Linked DNA regions of Homo sapiens: region 1 is linked to region 2. Evidence: fine-mapped QTL for protein levels in blood plasma. Region 2 holds a variant in brackets. A gene starts in the other region. All regions are shown on their forward strands.

What was found. PIP is the chance, under the fine-mapping model, that this variant and not a neighbour inherited with it causes the effect. The UK Biobank Pharma Proteomics Project read protein levels with antibody pairs (Olink). The fine-mapping took linkage between variants from a reference panel, not from the people measured, so its PIPs are less certain.
Region 1: LTBP2 starts here. The variant in region 2 is fine-mapped to the plasma level of the LTBP2 protein (UK Biobank, PIP 0.96).

The regions. Positions count from the first base shown.
Region 1 is chr14:74,611,281-74,614,109 of GRCh38, forward strand. It overlaps LTBP2 (latent transforming growth factor beta binding protein 2), which reads right to left and starts at 957. Exons shown (of 36, transcript NM_000428.3): 1 at 171-957. The coding sequence starts at 664. LOC101928352 (a long non-coding RNA gene) reads left to right here and starts at 1,905. Exons shown (of 2, transcript XR_944029.4): 1 at 1,905-2,015; 2 at 2,287-2,768. RefSeq lists an enhancer at 1,013-1,640 and a silencer at 1,268-1,587.
Region 2 is chr1:16,988,628-16,991,469 of GRCh38, forward strand. It overlaps ATP13A2 (ATPase cation transporting 13A2), which reads right to left. Exons shown (of 29, transcript NM_022089.4): 21 at 1,500-1,660; 22 at 1,260-1,376; 23 at 1,064-1,143. Among named protein-coding and RNA genes, the nearest start is that of MFAP2, 9.4 kb to the left of the region's middle. The variant G/A (reference allele first, on the strand shown) is at 303.

The sequences.
Region 1 (2,829 bases), not on the chromosome of region 2:
GATCAAATCTTCCAATCCCGATTTTGGAACCTCGGGGCTGTTTCCCGAAGTACTAAAGACAGAGGGACGAGGGTATGAGAGCGGCGCCCTCTCCTCTCGCCTGCACGCCCCTCCACAAATGAGCCCTGGCTCCCCTCTGTACCCTCCAAACTTCCCTCTCCCATGCTCACCCCGTGAGCCGCCCTCGCGGCGGGGTTGGGGGCGCAGCCCCAGACCGCTGTGGGGTCCCCAGGCGTGGGAGAGCCGGCGCGGCCCGGGTCCGGGGTGCTGGTTGCTGCTGGCCCAGGGGAGTGCTTCTCCGGGTCTGCGCAGGTGGCTGGACACGCCGCGACTGCTGCGCGCGGGACGGCCTCCTGGCCTCCGCCTCGGTGGGCCTCCTGGGGCTCCCCCAGCCCGGCTGGGCCCGCTCCACGGGCTGCAAGCCCGCGACAGGCGCGTCCTGCTCCCGGAACAGACTGTACACCTTGGCTGCAGCCGCTGCCGGGTAGCTGCCCCCAGGGCGCCGCAGTCGATTCGCGTCTCCACCAGCCGGCTCGTATCTCCCTACGGGGTCCCTTTGGGCATGACCCGCGCCCACGAAGAGAGCCAGGGTGAGCGGCAGGAAGCCTCTCCAGGGGTTCCGCAGGGCGCGCCCCGGGCTGCGGGCTTTGGTCCGCGGCCTCATGGCGCGGGGCGGCTGGAGAGTGGTGCGCGCGGGCACCGCGAAGAGCTTTGTGGTCGGCACGCTGGACGCCCGCGGGCTGTTCTCCCGGCCCCGCCCGGCGGCCAGCTTCTCTGAGTCTAGGGGGCCCTGAAGCGGCCGACTGGGGGCCCGGCTCTCGGCGGAACGAGGGCTGCGCGCCCCGAGCCTCGAGTCCGCGCTCCTACTCCAGCTGGGCTCGCACGGCTGCTGCACCTTCGCGCCTCCTCCCTGTGCCTGCAGCCGTCTGAAGGGGACCCGGACGGTTTTATTTTTGGAAACCTCCCCCGGCTTTTTCGTCTCTTTTATCCACACCAGGCCCCCTCCTCGGAGGGACAGCTCAGCCCCCTCATTACCGGAGAGGGAGCGAGGAATTCCAGCAACACCCACTTTGGCACCGGGAAGCCAGCGGGCGGCGAGCGGGCGGCGAGGGGGATTAACCCGTGCGGAGCAGGGGGCGGCGCGGGGCTGACCCAGGCGCTGGTCGGGCAGATGGCGCCTGCCACGACCGGGACACTGGGCCGCCTTTCTCCTGCTCTGGGCAAGTTCGAACTGCAGACCTGCCCCGAATCGTTCTCCCGCCCCTCGCCTCAGGGACCGTCTTTGGATCGGGGGACCCAGGCTGCAGCCTTGCAGGTCTGAAGGAAGCCGGGAGGGGCGCCGAGGCCCGCGTAGGGGAACAGGGCCGCCGCCCCCTCCGCTTGCGCCCTGGCCGCTGGGGGCGCCCTCCGCAGGGCCGGCCGGAGCGGGGGTGGCGCGGGGCGGGGCGCGGCGCGCGGAGCGCAGGGAGGTCCCGGGCGCGCCCCCTGGCGGAGCTGGCGGCCCTGGCGCTCCGTGGCTGCAATGCCCTGGCGCCGCCGCCTTCGCTCTGGATCTCAATCCCCTTCCACTGGCGTGAGGGTCACGCCTGAGCCTGGCGCGGTGATGGCTGCCGGTAGAAGAGGGGTCCTCTTTTTCTTTTTCTTTTTCTTTTCTTTCTTTCTTTCTTTCTTTTTTTTGAGACGGAGTTTCGCTCTTGTTGCCCAGGCTGGAGTGCAATGGTGCGATCTCAGCTCCCCGCAACCTCCGCCTCCCGGGTTCAAGCGATTCCCCTGCCTCAGCCTCCCTAGTAGCTGGGATTACAGGCATGCGCCACCAAGTCTGACTAATTTTGTATATTATTTTATTTTTTAGTACAGACGGGGTTTCTCCATGTTGGTCAGGCTGGTCTCGAACTCCCAACCTCAGGTGATCCGCCCGCCTCGGCCTCCCAAAGTGCTGGGATTAAAGGCGTGAGCCACCACGCCCGGCCAAGGGGTCCTCTTTTTCACCGAGGCAAAGACACGGAGCCTCTTGAGTAAGTCACTCAAGGAGATAGCGCATGTGAAAGAGGGGAGTGGAATCTAGGCCTCCCGCCTCTGGCTGAATCCATTCCCGGGATCCCACCCAGCCCTTCACTCTCTCGGGAATTTCCCAGAGGGGGATTCGGTGACCCCGATTGACCCAGTGTGTGCATTCACATCTTGTGTTAGCAGGGAGGCGGGCAGGGGTGTGGGAATGCTGACTGCCGCTGTCTGCGTGTCCCCAGTAATCAGCACACCATTCTCACCCATGCTCCCTCCCTACAGCCTAAAGGCTTGGATCAACAGGGCTGCCCCTGGCACATTTGTACAGCCTATTTCCCAGAGAGGCAGAGTGAAGGAGCTGGCATGTGGGCACCAGTTCACAACCTCCCACACCACACAAAAGACAAGCCCAGGTAATATCTACTGTTGAAATAAAGCCTCGACCCCTGGCCTTGGCCTACAAACCCTAGCTGGCTGCCCCCGCTCTGATTTCATCTGGCCTCTTGCTCTCCCTTACCCACCACACTGTGCTGCCTTGGCCCTCTCTCTGCTCCTTGAACAAGCCAAGTGAATGCCCCCTTCCCTCTACTGGAAGGTTCCTCTCCAGGATGTTAGAGGGTAGTTCCTCATCACTGCTCCTCTCAGATTAAATATCAGCTCCTGGAGTAGCCATCCCTGACCTCCAATCTAGAGCAGCCCTCCCTCACCCCAGTCATGACTCTAACACACCACCCTGTTTCATCTTCATAAAACAGTTGACATCATCTTGTTATTGATTTGTTTGCTCGTGTAACTGAATTTTTTAATGGGCTGAACCTAAAGAGG
Region 2 (2,842 bases):
ATCATTATTATTATTATTTTTTGAGACGGAGTTTCACTCTTGTTGCCCAGGCTGGAGTGTAATGGCATGATCTCAGCTCACTGCAACCTCTGCCTCCTGGGCTCAAGTGATTCTCCTGCTTCAGCCTCCCAAGTAGCTGGGATTACAGACGCCCGCCACCACGCCTGGCTAATTTTTTGTATTTTTAGTAGAGATGGGGTTTCACCATGTTGGCCAGGCTGGTCTTAAACTCCTGATCTCAGGTGATCCACCCGCCTCGGCCTCCCAAAGTGCTGGGATTACAGGCATGAGCCACCGTGCCC[G/A]GCCTATTATTTTTTGAGACAGAGTCTCCCTCTGTTGCCCAGGCTAGAGTGCAGTGGCGTGATCTCTGCTCACTACAACCTCCTCTGCTGCCCAAGTGCCCTCAGCCTCTTGAGTAGCTGGGATTACTGGTGTGCGCCACCATGCCCAACTAATTTTTGTATTTTTAGTAGAGACAGGGTTTCACCATGTTGGCCAGGCTGGTCTTGAACTCCTGACCTCAGGTGATCTGCCTGCCTCAGCCTCCCAAAGCGCTGGGATTACTGGCATGAGCCACCGCGCCTGGCCTATTACTATTTTTTGAGACGGAGTCTCGCTCTGTTGCCCAGGCTGAAGTGCAGTGGTGTGATCATGGCTCACTGCAGCCGCAGCCTCCCAGGCTCAAGCAACCCTCCTGCCTCAGCCTCTTGAGTAGCTGGGATGACCGGTGTGTCACCACACCTGGCTAATTTTTAAATTTTTAATAAGAGATGGGGTCTCACTTTGTTGCCCAGGCTGGCCTCAAACTCCTGGGCTCAAGTGATCCTCCCACCTCGGCCACTCAAAGAGGTGGGATTACAGGAATGAGCCACCGCACCCAGCCTACAATTATTATTTTTAGCATGAAAGACCTGGGAGAGCCTGCCTGCTTTTGGTGAGGAGGGGTGACAGCTCTCTGGTGCCTGAGGAGGGAGACAGGGCCCTGGGGAAGGACAGATGAACAGACGAACGGACAAGCTCAGTCTCCGCAGGCCCTTGCCCACACCCTCTGCCGAGCACTCACTGAAGCTTCTGTAGCTCGCACACCAGCTCTGTCTTCTGCTCAGGGGCCATGCGGGCAAAGACAGTGCCCTGGACCAGGACCTGGGAGCACAGGGAGATGGGGGAGGGCTGAGGCACCCACCAGGGAGAGCGAGCCGTGAGGAAGGAGACAGAGCAGGGGAGGCGCAGGGCGGCCAGGGAGCTGGGGGCGGCCCTACCTTGGGCAGCAGCTTGGGGAAGTGCTTCACAATGATACCAAAGGTGGGCCCGCTGAGGGCCAGGTGCCTGGATCGGGGGTCTGGCTCCACGGTGTAGCTTGCAGCCTGGTCAGGATCCTGGGGGCCCAGGAAGCTCAGCTTAGCTCCCCCTGCCCACCCTGGAGAGTTGGGGCCTGGGTCAGGTGACACAGGGGTGGGGTCACTGGGTGAGGTACAGCTGGAACTCTGGGTTAGCCTCACCTTAACGCCATTCACGGCTGTGGGGGACTCCATCGGCAGGAACTCGAGAGAGGCAGGCTGACCCCGCTCAGGGTGGGTGGCGTGGACGATGATCAGATGCTCCTGGGGGGCCACCATGCCACAGCCCCGGGCCACAGTCACCGCTGTCTGCAGGTTGTCCCCTGGGGGTTATGGGGCAAGGTGAGGGTCTGAGGCTATCCGGGGAGGCCATCCTCATCCTGATCCTTACAGATGGGAAAACAGGCTGGATGAAATCCGTCTGCCACCACCAGCCAAGTGAGCTGAGGCAGGTTACCAACATCCCTTTGCCTCAGTTTTCTCATCTGTAGATCCAGGCATTGAAGGGTCTTAGGAGAACCTGGAGCCGTGGGCTGGAGCTCCACATATACTCCTTTTTTTTCTTTTTTTAAGACAAGAGTCTCTCTCTGTGGCCCAGGCTGGAGTGCAGTGGCTTGATCTCGGCTCACTGCAACCTCCTTCCTCCTGGGCTCAAGCAATTCTCCTGCCTCAGCCTCTTGAGTAGCTGGGATTACAGGAGGGTGCGACCACACCAGGCTAATTTTTTTTGCATTTTTAGTAGAGATGGGGTTTCACCATGTTGGCCAGTCTGGTCTTGAACTCCTGGCCTCAGGTGATCCCCCTGCCTCGGCCTCCCGGAGTGCTGGGATTACAGGCACGAGCCATGTGCCCAGGCTACATATACTCCTTACTGCTGTGTGACTCTGCTGCCAAGTGCCCATGAATGTGTGTGCACATATGTGTGTGTGCAGGGGCGGGGAGGACAAGGACACAGACCTCTTAGCTCCTGCTGTCTCACCCTAGCTAGAATCTTTTTTTTTTTGAGACTGGGTCTCTCTCTGTTGCCCAGGCTGGAGTGAAATGGCGTGATCTCAGCTCACTGCAACCTCCACCTCCCGGGTTGAAGTGATTCTCCTGCCTCAGCCTCCCGAGTAGCTGGGATTACAGGCATCCACCACCATACCTGGCTAATTTTTTGTATTTTTAGTAGAGACGGGGTTTCACTATGTTGGCCAGGTTGGTCTCGAACTCCTGACCTCAAGTGATCCGCCCGCGTCGGCCTCCCAAAGTGCTGGGATTACAGGCGTGAGACACTGTGCCCGGCCATTTTCGTATTCTTTGTAGAGACGGAGTTTTGCCATGTTGCCCAGGTTGGTCTTGAACTCCAGGGTTCAAGACATCCTTCTCCTTTGGCCTCCCAAAGTGCTGGGATTACAGGCATGAAGTACCGTGCCCGGCCAGAATCTTTCTCTTCCTGCTCCTTGAGCTTGTCACAGCCTCTGAGGCTGACATCATTATCCCCATTTCTCAGAGGTGCCACCTGG